Linked DNA regions of Homo sapiens: region 1 is linked to region 2. The links come from fine-mapping of genetic effects on gene expression. A gene starts in region 2. The other region holds a variant in brackets. All regions are shown on one strand. Distances are from middle to middle.

What was found.
Region 1: its variant is fine-mapped to the expression of TMPO in stomach (GTEx, PIP 0.96).

The regions. Positions count from the first base shown.
Region 1 is chr12:98,566,203-98,580,900 of GRCh38, reverse strand. No RefSeq gene overlaps it. Among named protein-coding and RNA genes, the nearest start is that of SLC25A3, 20 kb to the left of the region's middle. The variant G/A (reference allele first, on the strand shown) is at 11,301.
Region 2 is chr12:98,511,513-98,526,369 of GRCh38, reverse strand. It overlaps TMPO (thymopoietin), which reads right to left and starts at 10,780. Exons shown (of 9, transcript NM_001032283.3): 1 at 10,224-10,780. The coding sequence starts at 10,502. TMPO-AS1 (TMPO antisense RNA 1) reads left to right here and starts at 10,144. Exons shown (of 2, transcript NR_027157.1): 1 at 10,144-10,379; 2 at 10,473-13,397. RefSeq lists silencers at 7,908-7,967, 10,021-10,290 and enhancers at 10,631-10,820, 11,081-11,160, 14,312-14,812.

The DNA.
Region 1 (14,698 bases), 55 kb before region 2:
CTATCTATCTATCTATCTATCTATCTATCTGTCATCTATTTCTCTATCATCTCTATCTACCATCCATCTCTCTATATCTATCATCTATCTCTGTCATCCATTTTTTTTGTTTTTTTTGTTTTTTTTTTGAGACGAAGTTTTGCTCTTGTTCCCTAGACTGGAGGGCAATGGCACAATCTCCGCTCACCGCAACCTCTGCCTCCCCGGTTCAAGCGATTCTCCAGCCTCAGCCTCCCCAGTAGCTGGGATTATAGGCATGTGCCAACATGCCCAGCTAATTTTGTATTTTAGTAGAGACAGGGTTTCTCCATGTTGGTCAGGCTGGTCTCAAACTCCTGACCTCAGGTGATCTGCCTGCCTTGGCCTCCCAAAGTGCTGAGATTAGAGGCGTAAGCCACCATGCCTGGCCAATTTCTTTTTTTTTTTTTTTCTTTTGAGACGGAGTCTTGCTCTTGTCGCCCAGGCTGGAGTGCAATGTGGCACAATCTCGGCTCACTGCAACCTCCACCTCCTGGGTTCAAGCGATTCTCTTGCCCCAGCATTCCAAGTAGCTAGGATTACAGGCACCTGCCACTACGCCCGGCTAGATTTTTGTATTTTAGTAAAGACGAGGTTTCACCATGTTGGCCAGGCTGGTCTCTAACTCCTGACCTCAGGTGATCCGCCCACCTCGGCCTCTCAATGTGCTGGGATTACAGGTGTGAGCAACCACGCCCAGCCTCATCCATTTATTTCTGTCTATGCATCTCTGTCTATCATGCCTATCTATCTATCTATCTATCTATCTATCTATCTATCTATCTATCATCTATCTCTGTCATCCATTGATCTATATCTCTGCCATCCACTTATCTCTATCCATCTCTATCATTCATCTCCATCTATCTGATCTATCTCTATCATCCATCAATCTATATCTATCTTTGTCTGTCATCCATTTATCTCTATCCATCTTTATCCTATCATCTATCTATCTATCTATCTATCTATCTATCTATGTCTATCATCTAACTTTTCTTTTAAAAACCATGAGTTCTGAATGGGCACAGTGGCTCACGTCTGTAATCCCAACACTTTGGGAGCCCGAGGCAGGGGGATTGCTTGAGGTCAGGAGCTCGAGACCAGCCTGGCCAACATGGTGAAACCCTGACTCTACCAAGAATAGAAAAATTAGCTGGGTGTGGTGGTCACGCCTGTAATCCCAGCTTCTCGGGAGGCTGAGACAGCAGAATCGCTTGAACCCTGGAGGCAGATGTTGCAGTGAGCAGAGATCATGCCATTGCACTCCAGCCTGAGTGACAGAGTGAGACTCTAAGAAAAAAACAAAACAAAACAAAAAACCACATGAGTTCACACTGATATCTCCAATTTCAAATCTTCAAATCACAACACCACAGGGTTCATTCCAGTCTATTTTTCTTTCCACATTTGTAACCCCCTTCTCTGACAGAGATAATAAACCTGGCTTTCATTATCTTCAATACGTTTACTTACTTATTACCCCCGTATGTAACCAACTTCCTAACCCTGCTGGGTGCCTCCTTGGTACCAACCTTACAGGTCTCACTGGCCGTGCCCTGCCTGAAGAGAAGAAAATAATTATAATAATAGTAATAATAATGTTTTTTAAAGACAAGAAAAAGGAATAAGAGGGAAGAGAAAGAGGAATGGTAAGTCGATATGGCTATCTTGAATGAACGAATTAACCTAAAATCTTAACAATATAACACAATAAATAATGCAATAACATTTCTTGCTCCTGTAAGGTTTGGTGCTGATCAGGTGGTTTTCCAGAGAACTCTCCCTGAAGCGGTGACTCAGGGATTCAAGCTGCTTTCATTTTATGGTTCTGCCACCTCTACATGACCTCTACAGGTTCAGCTAAAGGGGAAGAGGTGGAACAAGAAGGCACATCTGCACTCAACTGCCTCAGAGTAAAAGTGACACATCACTTCCATTTATGTTCTTTTGGCAAGAATTAATCCTGTGACACCACCCAGGTACACAGGACTGAGAAAATATGGAGGAGCACATGGATTTTCAGATAGTACTAACAGTCTCCTCCACACTCAATAGATACATTGGAATGGATTTTGAATCTAGATAACATAAGCTATGTGTAGCTTCCTGGTGGACATTCTTAGAAGGTAACAATGAGGTTCACCAGGAAACAATGAGCAAAACTATTATATCCAACTTTTAGTTATAAGGTAGTGAAATGCAACAGTCATCCATAAAATATGATTTTGGTTTTGGATTAGTTGAGTTAAAGCCATTTTTTCTAGCAGTAGTTAGCAGGATCATGTCTATCACAGCCACACCTAGTCCAAAGGCTAGCATGTTTTTTCCTGGTGGCCGTAGTAAGTATCTGGATGTAATCATTCAGAGTTCATTCAGAAACTACAGTATAAAATACAGCCCTGTGCTTCCTCCTCTAATTATAATTGTTTTTAAATTTTCAAATAATTTCAAACTTACAGAAAAGATGTAAGAATAGTACAAATAACTCATATATACTTCATCCAGATTTACCAGTTTTTAATATTTCGTCACAACTGCTTTAATAGTTTTTTTTCCCATCTATCTCTATGTCTGGCTATCTATTTATCTATCTACCTACTTACCTATTATCCCTCCACCCATCCACCTACCCATATAATTTGAACCATTTGAGAGTAAACTGCAGAGTATACTGTTTAGCCCCTAAATACTTCAGGTACATTTCTTTTTTTTGTGGGGGAGGGGGATGGGGAGAGTCTTGCTCTGACACTCCGGCTTAGAGTGCAGTGGCACGATCCCAGCTCACTGCAACCCCCACCTCCGAGGTTCAAGTGATTCTCGTGCCTCAGCCTCCTGAGTAGCTGGGACTATAGGCATGTGCCACCACACCTGGCTAGTTTTTGTATTTTTAGTAGAGATGGGGTTTTGCCATGTTGGTCAGGCTGATCTCAAACTCCTGGCCTCAAGTGATCTGTCCGCCTCAGCCTCCCAAAGTTCCGGGATTACAGGTGTGAGCCACCGCACCCGGCCTCAGAGTGCATTTCTTAGGGACAAGGATATTCTCTTACATAAGCAGAGTATAATTATCAAAATCAGGAAATTTAATACTAATAATCTAACCTATAATCTACATTCAAAATTTGCTAATTGTCCCAACAATGTCCTTTATTTACAACAATGCCTTTTTTTCTGGTCCGTATCTAATCGTGGATGACACATTGCATTTAGTACACATGCCTCTTTAGCTCCCTTTGCTAAAACTGGACTGCGGTGGCAGCACCATCTCAGCTCACTGCCACCTCTGTTTCCCTGGCTCAAGCAGTCCTACAATCTCAGCCTCCCAAGTAGCTGGGATTACAGGTATGAGCCACCATGCCTGGCTAATTTTTGTATTTTTAGCGGAGATGAAGTTTCACCATGTTGGCCAGGCTGGTCTCAAACTCCTGAGCTCAAAGTGACCCACCAGCATGGGCCTCCCAAAGTGCTAGGATTACAGGCGTGAGCTATGGCACTTGGCCTTATTTATTTATTTATTTTTGCTCACTGTCACCCCTAGATAATTTTTTTTTTATACTTTAAGTTCTGGGATACATGTGCAGAACGTGCAGGTTTGTTACATAGGTATATACGTGCCATGGTGTTTTGCTGCACCCATCATGCTGTCGTCTACATTAGGTATTTCTCCTAATGTTATCCCTCCCCTAGCCCCCCTTTCCCTAACAGGCCCCAGTGTGTGATGTTCCCCTCCCTGTGTCCATGTGTTCTCATCATCCAACTCCTCCTTATGAGTGAGAACATGCGGTGTTTGGTTTTCTGTTCCTGTGTTAGTTTGCTGAGAATGATAGTTTCCAGCTTCATCCATGTCTCTGCAAAGGACATGAACTCATCCTTTTTTATGGCTGCATAGTATTCCATGGTGCATATGTGCCACATTTTCTTTATCCAGTCTATCATTGATGGGCATTTGGGTTGGTTCCAAGTCATTGCTATTGTGAATAGTGCTGCAATAAACATATGTGTGCATGTGTCTTTATAATAGAATGATTTATAATCCTTTGGGTATATGCCCAGTAATGCGATTGCTGGGTCAAACAGTATTTCTGGTTCTAGATCCTTGAGGAATCGCCACACTGTCTTCCACAATGGTTGAACTAGTTTACAGTCCCACCAACAGTGTAAAAGCGTTCCTATTTCTCCACATCCTCTCCAGCATCTGTTGTTTCCCAACTTTTTAATGATCGCCAGAATCTACAAGGAACTTAAACAAATTTACAAGAAAAAAATAAACAACCCCATGAAAAAGTGGGTGAAGGATATGAACAGACACTTCCCAAAAGAAGACATTTATGCGGCCAACAAACATATGAAAAAAAGCTCATCATCACTGGTCATTAGAGAAATGCAAATCAAAACCACAGTGAGATACCATCTCATGCCACTTAGAATGGCCTGACATTTTTTAGGAGTACAGGCCAGCGATTTATGTAAAATTTCCTTTAGTTGAGAGTTGTCTGAAGTTTTGTGATTCCATTCAGGTTGTGCATTTAGAGAAGGGATACTGTGTGAGTGATGTATTCTGCTCAGTGCACCCCTCAGGAAACACTTGGTGATTTATACCATTCCTAGGGTGAGGTTAACTTTGATCACTTAGTTAAAGGTGGTGTCTATCAAATTTCTTCACTGTAAAGTTATTATTTTTCCCTTTGTAATTAACCAGTAATTTATAAAGAGATACTTTTGAGACTATGTAAATATCCTGTTTTTCAAAAATCACATACCCAGTAATTTTCACATCTATTGATTATTCTTGCCTGAATCAACAATTACCATGATTACATGATTTTCTAAATCTTTGCTTCAGGCCAGATGCATGGCTTATGCCTGTAATCTCAGCACTTTGGGAGACTAAAGTGGATCACCTGAGGTCAGGAGTTTGAGACCAGCCTGGCCAACATGGTGAAACCCCATCTCTACTAAATATGCAAAAATTAGCCAGGCACCACACCGTGGTGGTGGGCACCTGTAATCCCAACTACTCGGGAAGCTGAGGCAGGAGAATCACTTGAATTTGGGAGGCAGAGGTTGCAGTGAGCCGAGGTAGTGCCACTGCACTCCAGCCTGGGCAACAGAGTGAGACTTTTTCTCAAAAACAAAAACAACAACAACAAAAAATAAATCTTTGTTTCTTCTATATTTTTTTTTAGCTGACCATTCTACTATAAGTATGAGCTTCCACTGGGCACGGTAGCTCACGCCTATAATTCCAGCACTTTGGGAGGCCAAGGCAGGCAGATAACTTAAGGCCAGGAGTTCGAGACCAGCCTGGCCAAAATGGCAAAACCCTATCTCTAGTAAATATACAAAAATTATCCAGGCATGGTGGCACACACCTGTAGTCCCAGCTACTCAGGAGGCTGAGGTGGGGAGGATCACTTTAACTTGGGAGGTAGAGGTTGCAGCAAGCCAAGATCACACCACTGCACTCCAGCCTGGGTGACAGAGCAAGACTCTGTCTCAAAACAAAACAAAACAAAAAGAATGAGCTTTCCTTTTTATTCATTCATTCATGTGTTATCAGTATAGATATGGACTCTGGAATCTAGATTATAACACATTACTAGTTAGGTGTTTCGCTGGCTTTTTTTTTTTTTTTTTTTTGACACGGGCTTACCTGGGCTGGAGTGCAGTGCTGCAGACTGGCGGAATCATAGCTCACTGCAGCCTCAAACTTATGGGCTCAAGCAAACCTCTCATCACAGCCTCCCAAATAGCTGGGACTACAGGCGCATGCCACAACACCTAGCTTATTTTTGTATTTTTTGTAGAGACAGGGTTTCACCATGTTGCCCAGGCTAGTCTTGAACTTCTGGGTTCAAGTGATCTGCTCTCCTCAGCCTCCCAAACTGTTTGGACTACAGGTGTGAGTCACCGCACCCAGCCTACTTTTGTTTTGATGTTCAAATTATCCTATTTGGGAGCCCCTGCCAGCTGGCTCCTGTGTACTTTTAACATGTCCCATTACTTTTTGAGCATATCTTTACTTTCTTTTAGAAAATATTTATATATTTATTTTTAATTTTAATTTTTAAAAATTTTTATAGAAACAAGAGTCTCGCTATGTTGCCCAGGCTGGTCTCAAACTCCTGGGCTCAAGGGATCCTACTGCCTCAGCCTCCCAAAGTGCTGGGATTACAGGTATGAGCCATGGCTTCTGGCCTTCCTTACTTTCTGATGCAAGATATTTCTCGCTTATCTGTGCTTTTCATGCTCTAACCCTAGCATCAGTCATTTCTCCAAGAAGCCCTGGTACATTTTATAGGGCGATGTTATTTAGGAACCTGGGCACTCCTTAATCCTTTCTTCAGGAATAACTCACCTTATTGAATCTATTCATTTCAGGCATTCTGAACTGCAGGGTTGAATTGGTCCCATTTACTCAGGCTGAGAAAGCATTTAGTTCCTTTACATTAGTCATAAGATCCTAAGTTCTACAAGAGTCTGGTTTGCTCATCGGTGGACTCTTGCCCCTAGGGTGCCAGCCATGTGTATCCAAAATGTTCTATAAATATTTTCTGAATGATTTAATGCTGCCAAGCCTACCTTAGAGAAACCTATTTGAGATATGGTTCCAGTTCTAAGTTCAAGGGTCACTAGAGAGCAGTTACATTCTTTGTACTCACCATGTTACAGAGTCATAGCCTAAAATAGACTTATCTGTCCTACAGTTTACCTTAGTATTTATATTGTATTAGAAGCCTGCAGAAGCCAACAGCTTAGTTTACAACAATTGTTTTTCAGGGGACCCTTTTCCAAGATGCCTTGTTTTCAAGATTTTCTAAATGGTTAAGAAGCAATTTTAGGCCAGGTGCGATGGCTCATGCCTGTAACCCCAGCACTTTGGGAGGTCAGAAGTTTGAGACCAGCCTGGCCAACACGGTGAAACCCGTCTCTAGTAAAAATACAAAAATTAACTGGGCATGGTGGCATGCACGCCTGTAATCCCAGCTGCTCAGGAGGCTGAGGCAGGCAAATTGTTTGAACCCAGGAGGCGGAGGTTGCAGTAAGCTGAGATCATGCCATTGCACTCCAGCCTGGGTAATAAGAGCGAAATTCCGTTTCAAAAACAAAACAAAAATTAGCTGGGTGTGGTGGCCCTTGCCTGTAATCCCAGCTACTCGGGAGGCTGAGGCAGGAGAATAGCTTGAACGCAGGAGGTGGAGGCTGCAGTGAGCCGAGATCATGCCACTGCACTTCAAGCCTGGGTGACACAGTGAGAATTCGTCTCAGAAAAAAAAAAAAAAAGAAGCAATTTTAGCAAATGTGGTTACTTTTACTAAAACTGTGCCAGAACTAACCTATAAAATCTGAGGCGCGTGACATATATATAGGTTTTGATCTATGGTTCCTGGCTCATAACTCCCATAGCCCCTGTTACAATAAAGAGAATCTCTCTGATCTTCTCCGGCCCTCCCTTGGCCTGCCCATGGCAGGACTCTAATCTCATCATTCTAGAGAGAATCTTGTCCCATAACTTGGAGGAAGGAATGTTGCACAGAGTGGCCAAGAAGAATCTTGCTGGACCAACACTTTGGGAGGCCAAGGCGGGTGGATCACTTGAGCTCTGGAGTTCCAGACCAGTCTGGTCAACATGGTAAAACCCTGTCTCTACAAAAAATACAAAAATTAGCCGGGTATAGTGGTGTGCACCTGTAATCCCAGCTACTCGGCAAGCTGAAGCAGGATAATTGCTTGAACCTGGGAGGTGGAGGTTGCAGTGAGCCAAGATGGCGCCACTGCACTCCAGCCTGGGCAATGGAAGTACAAGCCTGTCTCAAAAAATAATAATAATAATCTTTCTGGGTTTAGAGCATACACCTTTTGTCCAATCACACGGTTGTCCATGCTTCAATCATGCCTATCCAATGAAGTCCGCATAAAAAGTCCCAAGAGGGCAGGGGAACATGTGGAGTTTCCTGGAGAGTGGTGTGCTTGGGGAGAGCATGGAAGCACTACGCCCCCTCCCCCATAACTTGCCCTATGCAGCTCATCATCTGTATTATTTGTAATATCCTTTATGATAAACCAGTAAATGTAAATAAATGTTTCCTTGAGTTCTGTGAGCCACACATGCAAATTAATTGAACCCAAAGAGGGAATTCTGGGAACCCCAACTTGAAGCCAGTTGGTCAGAAGTTCCAGAGGCCCAGACTTGCTAGGGTGTCTGAAGTGGGGGGCAGGTTTGGAGACTGAGCCCTCAACCTGTGGGATCTGGCACTATCTCCAGGTAAATGATGTTGGAATTGAATTAGAGGACATTCAGCTGGTGTCTGCTGCAGAATTGATTGCTTGTTTCTTGGTGGGGAGAAATCCTCCACATTTGGTCACAAAAGTCTGCTGTGTTTATTGTTGTTGTGTTATTGAGTGAGACAATGGGAAAAACACAATTATAATTTTTCCGAACAAGGTATTAATTAAAAATACACTGTATATAGTTAAGTAGAGCATTTTATGCTCTTTTCCTTGATAAAACTGTGACTATAATCATTCTATCAGGAAAAAAAATAAACCACACCATTATTTTAACAGTGTTGCCTATGGGAATAGATTAAATGGGCACTGGAGAAGTTTAAAGGCACCGAGAGAAGACTGAGTCTGCACACATAATAACTGCAGAAAGAGCTACCACCCCTAGTGGTGGAGGCACAAAGGGAAGAGGTTGGAGTTAGAATTTAGCAGCGGGCAGTTCCCTGTGGAACTAGGACCCAAACCTCTGAGAAGGCACTGCCTGGCTAGAGCTTGTCTCCAAAGGAACTCAATGAGGCTGATTCTGGAAATGCTAGAAAAACTGGGTATGCTAGCCAAAATATCCTTTTAACATTTTTGCTCATATCAAAGTACTTTCCAGGTTATCTAGTGTAAAAATAACCCAAACATACTGGCTGTATCACAAAACTCTTCTAGTTGTTTACCAGCTGGGCTATTTCAAGACACCACAATTTCAACCTTCTCCCTTCTATTAAGATCTAATGGCATAGGCCGGGTGCAGTGGCTCATGCCTGTAATCCCAGCATTTTGGGAGGCCGAGGCTGGTAGATAACCTGAGGTCAGGAGTTTGAGACCAGCCTGGGGAACATGACCACGTCTCTATTAAAAATACAAAATTAGCTGGGCATGGTGGCACATGCCTGTAATCCCAGCTACTTGGGAGGTTGAGGCAGGAGAATCGCTTCAACCTGGGAGGTGGAGGTTGCAGTGAGCTGAGGTCGTGCACCCCTTGCACTCCAGTCTGGGCAACAAGAGCCAAACTCCGTCTCAAAAAAAAAAAAAAAAAAGTTAGTCAGTCATGGTGTCATGTGCCTATAATTCCACCTACTCTGGTGGCTGAGGCAGGAGAATCCCTTGAACCTGGGAGGCAGAGGCTGTGTGGTGAGCTGAGATTGCGCCACTGCACTCCAACCTGGGTGACAGAGTGAGACCCTGTCTCAAAAAAAAAAAAAAAAAAAAAAAAAAAAAAAAAGGCCAGGCCTGGTGGCTCATGCTTTTAATCCCAGCACTTTAGGAGGCCAATGCGGGCAGATCACGAGGTCAGGAGTTCGAGACCAACCTGGCCAACACAGTGAAACCCCATCCCTACTAAAAATACAAAAATTAGCCAGGCATGGTGGCGGGCACCTGTAATCCCAGCTACCCGGGAGGCTGAGGCAGGATAATCTCTTGAATCCGGGAAGCAGAGGTTGCAGTGAGCCAAGATCGCACCACTGCACTCCAGCCCGGGCAATGGAGCTAGACTCTGTCTAAAAAAAAAAAAAAAAAAAAGCTGGGTACAAACCAACTGTTGCTGCCAGAGTGAAGGGAGGAAGAAGTGATGTGAAGAGGTGGGACAGGAGCAGCAGCCAAGTCCCATCCTCCTCCTGCCGTCCAATCTCCTTTACTACCCCCTGTTCAGGTGAGCCTATAATAGTCTTTTGCATTGTCTCAGCCCAACTGTCAGAAACTATAGAGGAGTGGGTTTGGAGCGGAGAAACAATAGCTTAACCAGCACAGCAATATAGGAGTTCTGTTTGAAAGCAATCTATTGTAGCAACACATTTAGACCCTGAAATAACATACTATAGAGAGAACATTTGAATGCTCACTTGATGGATTTAATGCATACATAAACTCAATTCTTTATGTTCAGCTTTGTTAAAGTCCTCTTACATCAAGATTTATATGGTTAATTAACAAAACAACATTAAAGCAGCTGGGCACGGTGGCTCAAGCCTGTAATCCCAGCACTTTGGGAGGCTGAGGCGGGTGGATCACCTGAGATCAGGAGTTCGAGACCAGCCTCAACATGGAGAAACCCCATCTCTACTAAAAATACAAAATTAGCCAGGCGTGGTGGTGCATGCCTGTAATCCCAGCTACTCGGGAGGCTGAGGCAGGAGAATTGCTTGAACCTGGGAGGCAGAGGTTGCAGTGAGCCAAGATCATGCTATTGCACTCCAGCCTGGGCAACAACAGCGAAACTCCATCTCAAAAAAAAAAGAAAAATTAAAGCCTCACTGGGAAGAAAACACATACAAAGACTGTGAATAGGCAGGGCACAGTGGCTCACGACTGTAATCCCAGCACTTTGGGAGGCTGAGGCAGGCGGATCACGAGGTCAGGAGGTTGGGACCAGCCTGACCAACATGGTGAAACCTCGTCTCTACTAAAATACAAAAATTAGCCGGGCATTTTGGTGGGCACCTGTAATCCCAGCTACTCGGGAGGCTGAGGCAGGAGAATCGCTTGAACCCAGGAGGCGGAGGTTGCAGTGAGCCGAGATTGTGCCACTGCACTCCAGCTGGGGCGACAGAGCAAGACTCCCTCTCAAAAAAAAAAAAAACAGACTGTGAATAACTCAGATTACAAATTTGAAACAAAAGTAGAATTCTGATCTCTAGTTTGAGAAATAAATCATAATGTTAGTGAGTACAGTTTGATCTTTTCTTGGCTGAAACCTAGTAAGCTTGGAGATCAGCATTTTGAACCACCAAAAGGTTAGAAGATAAAAATTAATAGGGATCAAAGGAGAGGCTATTAGATACCGAGTCAGCTGGCAGCTAAAAGGAGGGATAGATAACAGATAAAAATGAGAAGAACCAGAATTTTAAAACCTCATAATCTAAAATAATACAGCTGGCTCCAGCCCCATTTAGGATTAAACAACTGTATTAATCTGTTTTCGCAATGCTGATAAAGACATACCTGAGGCTGGGTAATTTATAAAGAAAAAGAGGTTTAATGGACTCACAGTTCCACATGGCTGGGGA[G/A]GCCTCACAATCATGGTGGAAGGCGAAAGGCATGTCTTACATGGTGGCAGACAAAAGAGAACTTGTGCAAGGAAACTCCCCCTTATAAAACCATTAGATCTCCGCCAGGCACGGTGGCTCACGCCTGTAATCCCAGCACTTTGGGAGGCTGAGGTGGGCGGATCATGAGGTCAAGTGATTGAGACCATCCCGGCCAACATGGTGAAACTCTGTCTGTACTAAAAATACAAAAATTAGCCAGGCGTGGTGGTGGGCGCCTGTAGTCCCAGCTACTCGGGAGGCTGAGGCAGGAGAATTGCTTGAACTGGGGAGGTGGAGGTTGCAGTGAGCCAAGATCACGCCATTGCACTCTAGCCTGGGTGACAGAGCAAGACTCTGTCTAAATAAATAAATAAATAAATAAATAAATAAATAAATAAAACCATTAGATCTCATGAAACTTACAAGAACAGCATGGGAAAGACCCAACCCCAGGATTCAATTACCTCCCACTGGGTCCCTCCCACGACAGGTGGGAATTGTGGGAGCTACAATTCAAGATGAGATTTGGGTGGGGACACAGCCAAACTACATCAACAACTTTACATGGTTATAGATATTTTTGTTTATAACAACAACACACACACGTGCGCACCCCTATAAGTTGAGAGGGCAGAGAAAGTGACAGTAAGAGCATCCTGGCTGTCAAGGCATATTATGCAGACAACATCTGTCTATCAAAAATCACAAGCCAGCCACGGTGGTGTTTTCTTGGGGTTCCAGCTACTCCAGAGGCTGAGGTGGGAAGATCACCTGGGCAACGTAGTGAGACTTCATCTCTTTCTCTCTTTCCCTCTCTTTCTGAGACAGAGTCTCACTCTGCCACCCAGGCTGAAGTACAGTGGCGCCATCATGGCTCACTGCAGCCTCTGCCTCCTGGGCTGAAGTGATCCTCCCACCTCAGCCTCCAAAGTAGCTGGGAGCACAGGTACATGCAACCATGCCCGGCTAATTTTTGTATTTTTTTTTTTTATAGCGACGAGTTTTCGCCATTTTTCCCAGGCTGGTCTCAAACTCTTGGGCTCAAGCGATCCACCCACCTCGGCCTCCCAAAGTGCTGGAATTACAGATGTGAGCCACCACGCCTGGCCAAGACCCTATCTCTTAAAAGAAAAAACTCATAGACTCTTTGGTCCATTTATTTCATTTTGGGGAACTATTCTTACAATTACAGCACATGTGCAAAATGATATGGGTACAAGATGATTCATTGTAGCATTACTTATAACTACAACAGATGGGAAACAATGCAGTAATCGATCAATAGGGTTAAATAAATTATGCTACAGCCACACATGGAACACTATGAAACTGCTAATAAATATAAATAAATAAAATGAAACCTTTTGTACTGACGTCAAAAGATTCCAAACATTGTTAAATGAAACATTAAAGGTATTAAATAGTAGGTAGATTATGACACCACCTATGAAAGAGAAGAGTAAAATTGTGTGTGTGTGTGTGTGTGTGTGTGTGTGTGTGTGTGTGTGTGTGTGTGCATGTGATATCTCTGGAAAGATACACACACAAAAACTAATAACATTGGTTGCCTATGGGGTGGGGAACTGGAGAGTGGGGGTCAGAGGTGAAAGGGAGACTTTTCATTGTTTCTTTTTTCTTTTTCTTTTTTTGAGACAGGGTCTCACTCTGTCACCCAGGCTGGAGTGCAGTGGTATAATCACAGCTCCCTGCAGCCTTGACCTCCTGGCCTCAAGGGGTCCTCCTGCCTCAGTCTCCCGAGTAGCTGGGACTACAGGTACACGCCACTACACCTGGCTAATTTTTAAATATTTTGTCGGCTGGGCGAGATGGCTCACGCCTGTAATCCCAGCTACTCAGGAGGCTGAAGCAGGAGAATCGCTTGAACCTGGATGGCAGAGGTTGCAGTGAGCCGAGATCGCACCACTGCAGTCTCCGCCTGGGTGACAGAGCAAGACTCCGTCTCAAAATAAAAAAAAATAAAAAAGTAATAATAAAAGAAGACCAAAACTAACAGCAATTCACTTTTTGTTTTGTTTTGTTTTTTTGAGACGGAGTGTCACTCTGTCGCCCAGGCTGGAGTGCAATGGCGCCATCTCAGCTCACTGCAACCTCCACCTCCTGTGTTCAAGCGATTCTCCTCCCTCAGTCTCCCGAGTAGCTGAGATTACAGGCGCCGGCCGCCACACCCAGCTAATTTTTGTACTTGTGGTAGAGACAAGGTTTCACCATGTTGGCCAGGCTGGTCTCGAACTCCTGACCTCAGGCAATCCCACCCGCCTCAGCCTCCCAAAGTGCTGGGATTACAGGTGTGAGCCACTGCACCCGGCCTACAATTTTTTTTTTTTTTTTTTTTTTTTAAGACATGGTTTCACGCTTTTGCCCAGGCTGATCTCCAACTCTTGAGCTCAAGCGATCCGCCCACCTCAGCCTCCTAAAGTGCTGGGATTACAGGCGCGAGCCACCTCACCCAGCCAGCAACTCACATATTAATAACAAATGACAGACTACTTCACAGAGCTCTCCTATAGCAGAACGATTACAAACTACACTGAGTTTCACAGCGACATCTAGTGTACTCTTTTTGTAAAATCATAAACTCAATGGCTGGAATACCAGTTTGTGGCCATATGACTACGTATTATTTTTTAAATCCTGAAGTAAACGGCCTAACTAAAGCCTGCTTATTAATTCTTATTGTGCGAAATGTTTGGGGTTCTCACTGTCCATGTTTTAGCTGGATTAGAATTTACTACAGCAGTTGACACTGCAGTATAAAAATAGTTACTTTTGGTTGCTTCAAAATTTTACCGTAAAATTTACATAGTTTGTAATGAGAAAAAGATCAGGAATATTACGAATTCATCTGCAAATTTTTCCTCAATTCGAAGCTACCTAATACAGGGTAGTATAGTATGAAAATACTGTAGAAAGATCTCTGCACACAAAACTAAAATTCTATTTGTAGAATATTGGGAAGTTAGAAATTACCCAAGTAAAAATGTCAGCAACATTCTTGACTAATAAAGGAGTACCAGACAATAATAAGCAAATACTTTGGGACTACTATCAGACATTCTCTTTGGTATGGTAAAAATGCACAATAGCCCAAAAGTGACTTATTTATAAAAACAAAACAATCTATAAGAAAACATTTAGTTATAATACCATATATATAATGTTTTTCTGTTATATCTACTTTATTTAAAAAATTGTTTTGACTTTTTTTTGAGACAGGGTTTCACTGTATTGCCCAGGCCTGGAGTGCAGTAGAGCTATTCACAGGTGTGATCATAGCACACTGCAGCCTCAAACTCCTGGACTCAAGGGATCCTTTGGCCTCAGCCTGCTGAGTAGCTGGGGCTACAGATACACACCAC
Region 2 (14,857 bases):
CATCCCCAGAGTTTGATATCCATGGCCGGGTCCTGGAACCAATCTCCACCCCAAGGATAGGAGACAGGACTGTAAACTCCTTGTAACACAGTTATTTTAGTAGCTAGTTTATGACTTAGGAAGGAAATCTGACAGACTTCATGGTTAAATTATCACCTGTGACACAGTTTAGTCACCAGATTAACTTCTGTACCACCAGTTTACTAAAAATAGTCAAAATAACTTGAAACAAACTTTGAGGGAAAATTTGAAAGTTTTAAAATTAATTTCTACAAAGGCAGTATTTACTGGAAAAACTATAAATTTCCAAGGTTGAACAAATAAAAAGGAAGCAAAAGTACGGATACCTTTTAAGGCTGTGGCAAACAGCCTGACAAATGCCTCAGTGATCACAGAAAAAACATCAGAGTACTGAACAAAAAAATGGCTAATTAAACAATGGCAACATCAAAGTAAATTTTACGAAAAAGGCTAAAATTATCAAGTTGTATGGAATGCTCACTTTCCAATAATATTAGGGGGAAAAATCAGTCATGATTTGACTATGTACTGGAATTACTGTTTTTAACAATAAAAATGTTCTGACCTAGAATTGTCAGGCTCAAATCAAATCTTTTTTTTTTTTTTTTTTGAGACTGTGCCTCACTCTTATCCAGGCTGGAGTGCAGTGGCGCAATCTTGGCTCACTGCAACCTCTGCATCCAAGGTCCAAGTGATTCTCCTGCCTCAGCCTCCTGAGTAGCTGGGATTACAGGTGTGCACCACCACGCCCGGCTAATTTTTGTATTTTTAGTAGAGACGGGGTTTCAGCATGTTGGCCAGGCTGGTCTTGAACTCCTGACCCCAAATGTTATGCCCGCCTGAGCCTCCCAAAGTCCTAGGATTACGGGCGTGAGCCATGGAACCTGGCCTGAAATACTTCAAATAAAGCAAGATATGAGAAATTCTTTTTAAAAAGCTGCTAATGGCTAATCATTCTATAATCAGAAGCCAAAAAACCTTCACCAAAAAAATAGCTGCTCATAAGAACAATTATGTCAACTTACGAGAAATCTTAAATAGACGGCTGTGGAGAGTTACAGTGAGAGTACTTTTAGCAGGCTTTAATTCACATACATTGCACTGACCTAGAACTGTCAGGCTCATATCTGGAAGCAACCCACACCATAATATCCAAATAGTTGCCTAGGGTCTAAGAGTTCTAAGACTTATTTCTTTCAAGAAAAGATTTAATCAAACAAACTTAATCCTATGTTACTGACTTACTCAAATTTTCCAAAAAGTGCAGTCAGGTAGTACAGAAAAACTAAATAATGCTTAAAATAAAAATAAAACATGGAAAAACAATCAATCAGGTTCAAATTATTTGTACATAATCCCCACTACCACGAGAATGTTCAAATTTACTATCAATAAAACATCCAGGAAATTCCAACTTTTCAAACCCGCCTGAGAGGTTTTCAAGAAATCTCTTTGGGCCAGGTGCAGTGGCTCATGCCTGTAATCCCAGCACTTTGGGAGACCAAGGTGGGTGGATCACTTGAAGTCAGGAGTTCGAGACCAGCATGGCCAACACGGTGAAACCCCGTCTCTTTTAAAAATGCAAAAATTAGCCGGGTGTGGTGGCACATGCCTGTAATCCCAGCTACCTGGGAAGCTGAGGCAGGAGAATTGCTTGAATCTGGGAGGCGGAGGTTGCAGTGAGTCGACATCATGCCACTGCCCTCCAGCCTGGGCGATAGAGCAAGACTCTGTCTCAAAAAAAATCTTAACTCTTTTTTTTTTTTCTTTTTCAAGGTGGAGTCTCTTAACTCTCTCGCCCAGGCTGGAGTGCAGTAGCGCCATCTTGCCTTGCTGCAACCTTCTGCCTCCCAGGTTCAAGCAACTCTCCTGCCTCAGCCTCCTGAGTATCTGGGACTACAGGTGCATGCCACCACGCCCAGCTAATTTTTGTACTTTCAGTAGAGACAGGGTTTCACCATTTTGGCCAGGCTAGTCTCAAACTCCTGAGCTCGTGATTTGCCCACCTCAGCCTTCCAAAGTGCTGGGATTACAGGCGTGAGCCACAGCACCCAGCCCAAAATCTTAACTCTTGTTACCTCTATTTGGAAAGGTCTTACCCATTTCTGATTCTTCACCTTGGGCCAGATAATCTGTTTGTAATTGTGTAGCCCAGGTGATCTGGATGCAGCATTGAGGCAAGCAACAGAAAGCAGACGCACTATCATCCTCATATTCTTATTCCAAGCATCTAAACATTTCTAAAAAGACTGATACAGGAATAGCCCCCTGATAAATGTTTTGTCAAATCTGGGGAAGGAAAAAGTAATTTATTTTTGAAAATCCATTTCTTATTAGAAATAACAGGCCTATCAAATCTAAGTAAAAACCAATTCTCGGCAGTGGCTCATGTCTGTAATTCTAGCACTTTGGGAGGCCGAGGAGGGAGGATCTCCCGTTGAGGTCAGGAGTTTGAGACCAGCCTGGCCAACACGGTGAAACCCCATCTCTACTAAAAATACAAAAATTAGCCAGGTGTGATGGCACACGCCTATAGTCCTAGCTACTCGGCAGGCTGAGGCTGGAGAATCACTTGAATTGGGGAGGCGGAGATTGCAGCGAGCCAAGATTGCGCCACTGCACTCCAGCCTGGGTGATAAGGCCAGACTTCGCCTAAAGAAAAAAAAGAAAGAAAGAAAATCAATTATATTTCCTTCAAACATAATGAAAAACATCAGCTGAACAAAGATATCTTAAATAAGTGACCAACAAATCTACATAAGGTAAGTCAGATAAATTAAAACCAAAAACGTGATTTTTTTTTTTTTGAGATGGAGTCTCACTCTGTTGCCCAGGCTAGAGTGCAGTGGCATGCCCTCCATCTCCCAGGTTCAAGAGATTCTCCTGCCTCAGCCTCCCAAGCAGCTGAAATTACAAGCGCGCAACACCATACCCGACTAACTAATTTTTGTATTTTTAGAAGAGACAGGATTTCACCATGTTGGCCAGGCTGGTCTCGAATTCCTGACCTCAGGTGATCCACCTGCCTCGGCCTCCCAAAGTGCTGGGATTACAGGTGTGAGCCACTGCACACAGTCAAACATGTGGTTTTTAATCTGTCAGGAAAAAAGTTCCAGAAAAGTGATGTCATTTTATAAATCTCAGATTTAATAAGGATAAAAAATTAGGAGACAGTGTGCTGTACATGATTAGCAGTTTCAGTCAGGAAAAAGGAAGCATCAGTTGCATTAAATTCTGCCTCCAGAAAGCTTTGTTCCTTTAAGTAGATCACTTAAGAGTTTCACTCAAAAATAGTACCTACTATGCTACCCGATGATCTCTAACGTATTTTTCAACTTCAAAACCCAACAGCTCTATGATATCACCGATGAGCTTCTCTAATTCCTTTAATCTCTACCTCTAGTATAAAGATGTTGAACCATAACAATATATTCTAGTGGGCACTTATTATGTATTACGTACTGAGTTGTGTTCCAAGTGTCTTTGCATTAACTTACAGAGTCCTAAAAATCTATGGAATAAAATGCTAATATCCCCATCTGACAACTCAGAAAACTGAGGTTCAAGCATGCTCTTCACTAACTCAGGAAATCTGCATGCTATGATATACATGTCACTTTCACTTATCTACCTTATTCGTTTCCCAAAATTATATTTTAGTAACATTGCACTATATTGCCCTGACATTAAAGACAAAAATTCAGAAATCATTTAATGGCTATTAATTACTAAGCACTAGACACTTCACATATGCAATGGCATGTACTCCTCAATCTGATTAAGTAGCTATTAGGTTATTCCTCTATTTCAGGTGAAAATAGAGGATCTTAGATTAAGACACTGTTCAGTGTCATATGAATAAGTGGCAGACCTGGAATTTGAATCTATAACTCTATTATTCACAAGTCTGTAAACTTAACACCTTATTATACAGTGGTGGTAAATTTGTGATTTAATTAACATTTCCTATTGGTAGCATGCTTTTATGTTCTTTTCCAGGTCTTCAAATATTTCCTATTGAGAATTCATAATTTGGCCAGGAGCAGCAGCTCACACCTACAATCCCAACGCTTTGGGAGGCCTAAGCAGGAGGATCCCTTGAGGCCAGGAATTCAAGACCAGCCTGGTCAACATAGTGAGACTATCTCTATAAAAATTTTAAAAATCAGCTAGGCATGGTGGCACACACCTGTAGTCCCAGCTATTCCAGAGGCTTGAGCCCAGGAGTTTGAGGCTGCAGTGAGCTATGATCATACCACTGCACTACAGTCTGAGGGACAGAGCGAGACCCTATCTCTTAAAAAAACAAACAAACACACAGACAGGCGTGGTGGCTCACGCCTGTAATCCCAGTACTTTAGGAGGCTAAGGGGGGCAGATCACAAAGTCAGGAAGGAGTTTGAGACCGGCCTGACCAACATGGTGAAACTGTCTCTACTAAAAATAAAAAAATTAGCTGGGCATGGTGGTGCACGCTTGTAATCCCAGCTCCTCAGGAGGCTGAGGCAGGAGAATCACTTGAACCCGGGAGGTGGAGGTTGCAGTGAGCCGAGATCGCGCCACTGCACTCCAGCCTGGATGACAGCGCAAGACTCCTTCTCAAACACACACTCATAATTCACCAGAACAGATCATTCAAGAATATTATGCTCCACTAGATCCAAATAGCTACACCTTCAGGCTCTGCCTCTTAAAACAAAAAGGCAGACTGCCAACTCTGTAAATGTTTATTTTTGTGTCCACAATCTAGGTAGTTTCAACACCTAAAAATATTGGTAGCAAGATACATAAAATAAAAAGCTTAGAAATAAGAAAACAAAATAAAAACAAAACTTTTAACATGCAAAGTTTTGTCACATTATACCAAGTGAATCCAAGAGACTATGGTAGAAGCTGAAATGAAACAATTTCTTATTTAATTAAAAATGTTCCCCATAGGCTGGGCACGGTGGCTCACGTCTGTAATCCCAGCACTCTGGGAGGCTGAGGCGGGAGGATCAGAAGATCAGGAGATCCAGACCATCCTGGCTAACACAGTGAAACTCCGTCTCTACTAAAAATACAAAAAAATTAGCCGGGGGTGGTGGCAGGTGCCACCACGTAGCCCCAGCTAATCGGGAGGCTGAGGCAGGAGAATGGCGTGAACCCAGGAGGCAGAGCTTGCAGTGAGTGGAGATCACGCCACTGCAGTCCAGCCTGGGTGACAGAGCGACACTCCGTCTCAAAAAAAAAAAAAAAAAAAAAAAAATTCCTCATAAACCCATGATTAAATAGAAGGTATATGCATGCAAATAGTTAATCTTGGCCAAATCCACATTAATGCTTGATTTGTCTTAAAATGTTAAAAATCTCCCTTATCTGCAACTCTCAAACATAATTTGGCTTTCTCCTATAATATAAATAAATATTCTTTTATTCCTTTTTACCACTCCATTATGCAGAAGATTATAAATATTCTTTAAGAAATATGACCTGGAGGCCGGGAGCGGTGGCTCATGCCTGTAATTCCAGAACTCTGGGAGGCCGAGGCGGGCAGATCACCAGATCAGGAGATAGAGACCATCCTGGCTAACAGTCTTTACTAAAAATACATAAAATTAGCCAGGCGTGGTGGCGGGCACCTGTAGTCTCAGCTAGGCAGAGCTTGCAGGGAGCCGAGATTGCACCACTGCACTCCAGCTGGGATGACAGACTGAGACTCCGTTTCAAAAAAAAAAAGGAAAAAAGAAATAAGACCTGGTATTGGCCGGGTGAGGTGGCTCACTCCTGTAATTCCAGCACTTTGGGAGGCCGAGGCAGGTGGATCACGAGGTCAGGAGTTCGAGACCAGCCTGACCAACATGGTGAAACCTTGTCTCTACTAAAAATACAAAAATTAACCAGGAGTAGTGGTGTGTGCCTGTAAGTAATACCAGCTACTCAGGAGGCTGAGGTAGGAGAATTGCTTGAATTTGGGAGGCAGAGGTTGCAGTGAGCCGAGATCATGCCACTGCACTCCAGCCTGGGTGACAGAGTGAGACTCCATCTCTCACACACACAGAAGGAAGGAAGGAAGGAAGGAAGGAAGGAAGGAAGGGAAAAATATGGTTGGCCGGGCGCGGTGGCTCATGCCTGTAATCCCAGCACTTTGGGAGGCTCAGGCGGGTGGATCAACTGAGGTCAGGAGTTTGAGACCAGCCTGGCCAAGATGGTGAAACCCCGTCTCCACTAAAAATACAAAAATTAGCCGGGCGCAGTGGTGGGCACCTGTAATCCCAGCTACTTGGGAGGCTGAGGCAGGAGAATCGCTTGAACCCGGGAGGCAGAGGTTGCAGTGAGCTGACATCACGCCACTGCACTCTAGGCTGCGTGACAGAGCAAGACTCCATCTCAAAAAAAGAAAAAGAAAAAAAGAAAGAAAGAAAAAAAAAGAAATATGACCTGGTATTATTTTTATATGGGGCTAAAAATGACCAAAACGTAAAATATAGTACATATAAGAGGAATTGACATGAATAATTTTACACATAAATTATTATAAATTTCTTTTCCTGTAAACTTAAAATTATTTTTTCCTATGGCTGATAAAAACATCGAACAGACTCCTAATTATAACTCACTTGTACTTAACGTACTTTAAAACAGAAAATGACGCTGACTACCAATATTTTTCTTCAAGTTGTTGGCATGGCTATTAAGCTCAGTCAAGGGTAAACACCTCTTGAGTTTTAAATACTCCAGGTAGAAGACATTTAAACCTGTAATTATGAAGTAAGTTTTCTTTATATGGATGAAATAATTAAATGAAACGTAAAGAGCTTAATTACCATGCCAATAGACCTACTAGGTACTCTAAAAAACATGACTTCTGGGCTGGGTGCCGTCGCTCATCCTTGCATTCCCAGCACTTTGGAAAGCCCAGGGGGACAGATCACCTGAGGTCAGGTGTTCCAGACCAGCCTGGCCAACATGGCGAAACCCCTTCTCTACTAAAAATACAAAAATTAGCCGGGTATAGTAGTATACGCCTGTAATCCCAGCTACTCGGGAGGTCGAGGCAGGAGAATCATTTGAACCCAGGAGGCAGAGATGAAATCGGGCCATTGCACTCCAACCTGGGCAATGGAGACTCCGTCTCAGAACAAAACAAACAAAACAAAATAACAACAACAAAAATTACTTCATTTTGGCTGGGCGCGGTGGCTCACGCCTGTAATCCCAGCACTTTGAGAAGCCGAGACGGGAGGATCACGAGGTCAGGAGATCGAGGCCATCCTGGCTAACACGGTGAAACCCCATCTCTACTAAAAATACAAAAAATTAGCTGGGGGGTGGTGGCGGGCGCCTGTAGTCCCAGCTACTCGGGAGGCGGAGGCAGGAAAATGGCATGAACCCACGAGGCAGAGCTTGCAGTGAGCCAAGATCGCGCCACCGCACCCCAGACTGGGCGACAGAGCAAGACTCGTCTCAAAAAAAAAAAACCCTTCATTTTACTCAAAACTTATTTACATGATGCTAACCAACTTCAATTAACATATGAGTTGGACAGACAAGTAAATAAACACAATTCATTTTTAAATCCCCAAAGTTTTAAACCCAGTAGTTAAGAACACTTGGTAGGAACTCAAAATTGCTGGATAATCTTAATTAAAAAATTTTTACATTTAGGTCTTCTTACCCCCCAAAAGAACACAAGGTAGATGGGGACATAAACTCTCTTTTACCAAGTGGCTGATAGGAAAACATTAAAACTGAGATGGTTGTTTCTGTGTAAAAGAAATCATCCTCAAAATAAATAGGAACCAAGGCTGAGGCAGGATTGCTTGAGGCCAAGAGTTCTAGACCAGCCTGGACAACACAGAAAGCCTGTGTACCAAAAAAAAAAAAAAAAAAAAAAAAGATTAGAAAATTAGCCGGGTGTAGCGGTGCATGCCCCGTTGCCCTTGCTACTCAGGGAAGCTGAGGCAGGAGGCTCTCGTGAGCCAAAGAGTTTGAGGCTGCAGTAAGCTATGATCACATCCCTGCACTCCGGCCTGGGCAACAAAGCGAGATCCCGCCTAAAAATAATAACCAGTAATTCTATTATAAACATACAACCAAAAACTTCACGGTTTAATACTTTTGCACAGAGGACCAATGAAGGGTTCTATAGAAAATTAGGTTTTTTATAAAGTGTGCTGATTTAAATATTATTTTCAAACAACTTTTTTTTTTTTTTTTTTTTGAGACGAAGTCTCGCTCTTGTCCCCCAGGCTGGAGTGCGATGGCGCGATCTCGGCTCACTGCAACCTCCGCCTCCCGGGTTCAAGCGATTCTCCTGCCTCGGCCGCCGCCACCAGGCACGGCTAATTTTTGTATTTTTTTTCTTTAGTAGAAACGGGGTTTCACCATATGGGCCAGGCTGGTCTAGAACTCCTGACCTCAGGTGATCCACCCGCCTGGGCCTCCCAAAGTGCGGGGCTTACAGGCGTGAGCCACCGCGCCCGGCCTCAACCAACTCTACTTAAAGAGTTTAAATACTACCTTCTTTTTCAGAGCAGGGAAACATAACGGGTAAGCGGGTACGCTTTTATTTCAAAAGTAAATTTGTTTATTAAGAAATTAAAGAAGCTTTCCGCAAAACAAGATGTTTAAACAATAAGGTGTGATTGGTCTTTTATTTATTGTACAAATATTTGGCACTACTATGTGCCAGACACCGGACTGAAGACGTTTGGTAAAACTTTCAACTTCTCTGAAGCCGAGAATAAGATTTTCAATTAAATTTACATGTGTCTATTACATTTGTCTTTCATTTCTGCCTGAGTAGCCGGGAAAACACATTAGACAGGTTCCTTAAAAACTAAAGTAAAATTTGAAGGAAGGAATAATTTCGGTTTAAACTAGTGATCATTCCCAACAACTCCAAACACCACATTCACTGTCTCTTACAAGGCATTTTATGTTACACCAATTACTAGTTTTAGCTTCATCCTATTACGATTTGAAGCCTGGTAACTCGGCAGGCATAAGCAAACCCACAAAAAGCATATTAAAATCCACAGGTAAAAAAGCAAACTATTCTGAAACAAAACATGCTTTGCTGGAGCCGATTTGAGATTTAACCAGGATCAGACATTCCAAATTGCAATACTGATGCACCAGAATGTCATGAAATAAATTTTTCCTGAATCCTAAGTCTTTCGTTTCCTCAAGCAAAATTTACCAATATGTGGGGAAAACGCAATCCAAACTGCAATTTTCAAATATTTGTTTGCAGGGCCGGGCCCGGTGGCTCACGCCTGTTATCCCAGCACTTTGTGAGGCCGAGGCGGGAGGACCACCTGAGGTCAGGAGTTCGAGACCAGCCTGACCAACTTGGAGAAACCCCGTCTCTACTAAAAAATACACAAATCAGCCGGGCGTGGCGGCGCATGCCTGTAATCCCAGCTACTCGGGAGGCTGAGGCAGGAGAATCGCTTGAACCCGGGAGGTGGAGGTTGCGGTGAGCCGAGATCTCGCCATTGCACTCCAGCCTGGGCAACAAGTGCGACACTCCATCTAAAAAAATAAATAAATAAAAACTAAAAAATTATAATAGGCGCCTAAAAATATAGTTTAAAATGCTCCTTTTAATTCGGCATGAACCTGTTCCGCCAAAAGATGGCCTGTTGCTGGGAAAAATTAAAACAAACTAGAAAACATAAACGGTTCAAAAAGCCCTCCACACGCAAAAGTATAAAAAGGCGGGAATTTCCTCATTTCAAATTTTGGTTAGAAATTAGAGTGTCATCAGTTGCCCTCCAGGGAGCGCTCTGAGACTCTGCTGCGAGTCATTTCAGTTAATAAAGCGGGAAAACGCTCGAACTTAACCTATAGCATTTTGGGGCCACCCCTCCAGAGCTTTCGAAAGGGCACGGAAGTCCCCGTCTAAACGCCCGCTGCAGGCGGCTGGTGGTCCAGGGAAGCGGCGTCGACTGCGTGCAAAACAACCGCCGCCAACGCAACTCCACACCTCCCAGACCCACACGTCAAAGAACGCGAACCCCGCGGCCCCAACTTCTGGCCTCTCCGCTCCGGCGCCTGCAGCCCCGCGGGGAAGGGGCGACGCGAGGGGGCGCAGGGACAGCCCCGCACCTGGGAGGCCCGAGGGGGCGCCCGGGAGGGAGGGGCTGCAAACGGCGGCGAGCGCGCGCGGCAACCGCCAAACGCCCGCCTTTGTAGCCCCGGCCCCGCGTCCTTACCCTGCCGACGGCTGCTCGGCTCCGGCCCGCGGCGGCGGCCCCAGAGCCGAGGACCGGGGTGGGCTCGCGCTCTTCGTCACTGGAGAAGTCCGGGGGCCCCTTGCTGTTGGTGCCGGCGGGGAGCGGCGGCCGGTTGCGAGCCGTGAGGTGCTGCAGGTAGAGCTGGACGTACACGTCTTTGCGCTGCTCCCCGGCCGGCAGCGTCACATTGTTGGCGACCAACTCACTCTTCAACTTGTCTTTTGTCAGGACCGAGGGGTCTTCCAGGAACTCCGGCATCTCGGGGATCTGCGAAGCCCCCTCCCCACAGCCTTTGCCGCCGCCGCTCACGCCGGCGCGCTTGCTCCTGGCCGGGGACCGCGCTGCCGCCTCCGAGCCTCACGGCTCCTGCCCGGGAAGAGCGCTGCGGAGCGGAACAAAAACTCGCGGACACAAAGCCAAGCCAGACCCGGACACAAAAGACCCCAGAGCCGAACTACGAACCAACTGCGGCCAAGCTGGAAGCTCGCACCAACCCCAGCCCACACACTACAGGCAGGAGGCGAGCAGCCTGCTTCGCCCACGCCCCAAGAACGCGCGCCGCCATTGGCGGGCGACGGGAGGAAGCGCGGCGGTGATTGGCGAGACGGCTCGCGCGGGTTCCATTAGCCGCCGCGCTGAGCGAGAGGAGGTAGAAACGCAGTTTAAAAGGCGCTGGGGCGGGAGCCGAGGCTCCCGGCCCGCTTCTGTTTTCGTTTTCTCCACCCTTCCCCTTAGACGCCGATAAGGGACAGGTCGTACTGCTTTTGTGCGCCGTTTCCTCTCCCTCCCCCAGCTTGAGAAGCAGCTTTCGTCTCTGGGGTCGATCGCCTACGAACGCGCCGAATTCCACGCCAGTGTGAGGACCCTTGGCTGGGCCTTTCTTCCTCCCGGGACACTGAAGCTCCAAGAGTAGCCGCAGCCTTGCCTTCCCCAAACGCTAGCCCTGAAGGGGAAGAAAAGAAGCGAGGCTTGTCTGCAGGCACTCATATTCCTTGATTTGATTTACTTTGGGAGGGGGAGGGCGGGGAGTTACCCCTCTCCTCGCGAACGCTTCTTTTGTTCCAGAAACCCAGGGGAAGCCAGACCTCTACAATCGGGCACTTAAATTACCCTTGAATTTGTGACAAAAGTGTACTATACCATTCACTTCTTAGTGTCATAGTTGGGGCATGTCTAAATTGTTTAATTTGAACAGTGCGTTCAGACGCAAGACAAATTCGCGCTTGCATTTTTGTTGAAACCGTCTCTGGCTTTGGATCCCACCACCCGCAAGAATCCTAAACCTAACGTTTGATAACAAAACGAAGGAGAACCCTTGGGAACCCCCTCAATGGTCAATTTAAAATAACAGATGGTGCATAATCCTAAAGGAAGACTAGTGACCTATAATTAGGCCTAGAACCCTAATCAAACCCGTATTACCGATCCAAATTAAAACCTGGTAGAATCTAATACATTGACTGCAATTAAAATGTTTGCCTGGAAATTAGTATCACTGATGACAAATATTTGTATTTCTGATGAATATGTATGTTTAAAGATGCTTTCTTTCTAGAAAGGAAAGGAGACCTTGGATGTAGGGTGTGTTAATCATTTCCCCAGAATCTGAGCTCCAAACTATGTTTTAGAAACTGGTTAAATTTTTTTTAAATGTTTGCCTGCTTTCTACATTGCTAGGTTAGAATACATTTAAAACAAACGCCTTCACTAAAAATGTTTCCTATGATTTAAGCGACTTACTTTTATTCAAATTGCGATATTATTTCTTTTAGTGATAATTATTTTCCTAGAGGTAACTAATTCCTTTATAAAAATCTCAGTATTCACATACATTTAAGCAATGGTATTAAGCTCAATAATGCAAATTAAAAATCAGGTTTTAATTAGCAAGTTGTTAGGTAGGTTTTTATGATCCCTTGTAAAAGTTGCTTGGTTTTTTGTCCTCACAGCTTCCCTGGACACATAGGCAAATGTTTTTATCTTCAGAAGGGGAACTGAGCTGAGAGGCAAAGGACCATGACTTTGCAATGACTGGTAACCCAGTACGTATAATGCAAGAACTGCATTCTAGATACGCCTGAAATTAATGTTTCCTGGGCAAAAACATTTTCATTATCTTTTTTTTAATCCCTGGACATTAGCTACAGGTGGTTACTTGCAGATTTACTGCTGTAGAGCTCCAAAATTGAGATTACACTTTTCAGATTCTGCGTACCCTAAGGCTAAGAGGTTGGGCTATTGAGTTTGGGTGGTCTCTTTGGTCCTGATTGCTACTTCCAAACCATTTCTGCTCTTTTCTGCTTCAAAAATATTTGAAGTTCATATCTTCTGGCTAAATCACTTTCTACTCTCCTTCCTGCCATCATCCACGAGCCTCCTGGTCACTTTCCAGAAATTATAGAGCTGCTTGCCGTAGGTTTTCCTCACCATCCCTCTTGTCTACATTCTATCTGAATTCAGCATGCTTGTAGGTGACCCATGCAACACCAACACTTGGCCTCTTAGACCTCTGACCTCTTCATCTCCAACAATTTGTTCCTCTCTTGCGTCTTAACCACTTCGGTATCAGTCAGATTCTGAACCTTGTCATCAGTTGAAATCTCAGTTTCAAGCTTCCCAATTGTCAATCACTAGCCTTTTTTTCCCAGCTAATTTATGGTACTCTCACTTACCTAATTAAGACCTCCACGCTATTAACCCCAACACTTAAAAAAACTCAACTCTTCTGCTTCTGCCATCATGTAATAATTTTGCAACTCACCTGACTTAAATTCCCTGATCAGTCCTTTTCATCACTCTTTTACAAACATTTTCAACTCTCTGATCTCAATGTCTCCTTTTTTGCTTGAAAGAATCTCAGCCTTGCTTGGACTAAACCATGCTCCAGCTGAACTTTCTCATTGCTTACATCCAAACAGCAAAAGCTGCTGGAGAAAAGTCAGTCATATAACAAGCTAACTGGTTTTAATTCATGACCTCAGTCCTCTCAGGAGCACTCAACACTGGCTGGCAATGCTATTCCAGTCTCTGGGTTAACCATTCATACGTTCACATCTCCTCAAATTTCACATCCTTTTTCCCTACCTCTCATTTTTAGCTGGTGACCTTGCCTCAACTTCAAAAAATAAAAACCACCTATGAGGAATGCTTCAACGTCAGACTTTCCAATTTGCATTCATTTTCTCTTGCATTTTTCTTTTCAGTGAAAGATGTGTCCTGTCAGAAGGAAATTCCACCACTTGTACTCTGGCTCTCACCCTTCTCAAGGAATTGACTCTTTCCATCATCTCCTTAATACTTGTTTCAACATAAAAGATAATTTTTAAAATATTTGATCAATGTGACACAAAAAACACAAAGGCTGAGCACTGTGGCTCACGCCTGTAATCCCAACACTTTGGGAGGCTGAGACAGGCGGATCCCTTGAGCTTAGGAGTTCAAGACTAGCCTGGGCAAAACAGTAAAACCCCCTCTCTACAAAAAAATACAAAATTTAGCCATGGTGCCCACCTGTAGTTCTAGCTACTAGGGAGACTGAGGTGGGAGGATCACTTGAGCCTGGGAGGTTGAGGCTGCAGTGAGCCATAATCCTGTCACTGCATTCCAGCCTGGGTGACAGAGTGAGACCCTGTCTCTAAAATCAATATGTGTAAGATGTAGATTGGTCCCTTCCAGAAAGGCGGGACAACTATTAATAAAAGTGGGGGTTGGGGGGCTCGGGGTGTTCCAGGTCATTGGTAGATAAAAGTAATTTTAATTCAGAAAATTTCACAGGGAAATGAGAGTTTTTAGAAGTCTTAATATTCTGACTGTGGTCAGAATGTCCAACAGAGACTAGGCTGGAGTGCAGTGACGTAGTCTCGGCTCACTGCAACCTCCGCCTCCCAGGTTCAAGCAATTCTCCTTGCCCCAGCCTCCAGAGTAGCTGGGACTACAGGCGCCTGCTAATACACTCATCTAATTTGTTTGTATTTTAGTAGAGACTGGGTTTCACCATGTTGACCAGGCTGGTCTTGAACTCCTGACCTCAGGTGATCCACCCGCCTCAGCCTCCCAAAGTTCTGGGATTACAGGCATGAGCCACTGTGCCTGGTGGATGCAAATTTTTTTTTTTTTTTTTTTGGAAATGGAGTCTCCCTCTGTTGCCGAGCCTGGAGTGCAGTAGCACAATCTCAGCCCACTGTAACCTCTGCCTCCCAGGTTCAAGCAATTCTTCTGCCTCAGCCTCCCAAGTAGCTGGGATTACAGGCGCCTGCTGCCACGCCCAGCTAATTTTTTTGTAATATAGTAGAGACAAGAGTTTCACCATGTTGACCAGGCTGGTCTCAAACTCCTGACCTCAGGCAATCCACCCGCCTCAGCCTCCCAAATTGCTGGGATTACAGGCATGAGCCACTGCGTCTGGCCTGATGCAATTTTTTTTTTTTTTAAATCAGAAAACTTTCCCATAACTTAAAAAAAAATCATCTGGAGGTGGGCCCGGTGGCTCACGCCTGTAATCCCAGCACTTTGGGAGGCTGAGGCAGGCAGATCACCTGAGGTCGGGAATTTGAGACCATGTGGAGAAACCCCGTCTCTACTAAAAATACAAAATTAGCCTGGCGTGGTGGCGC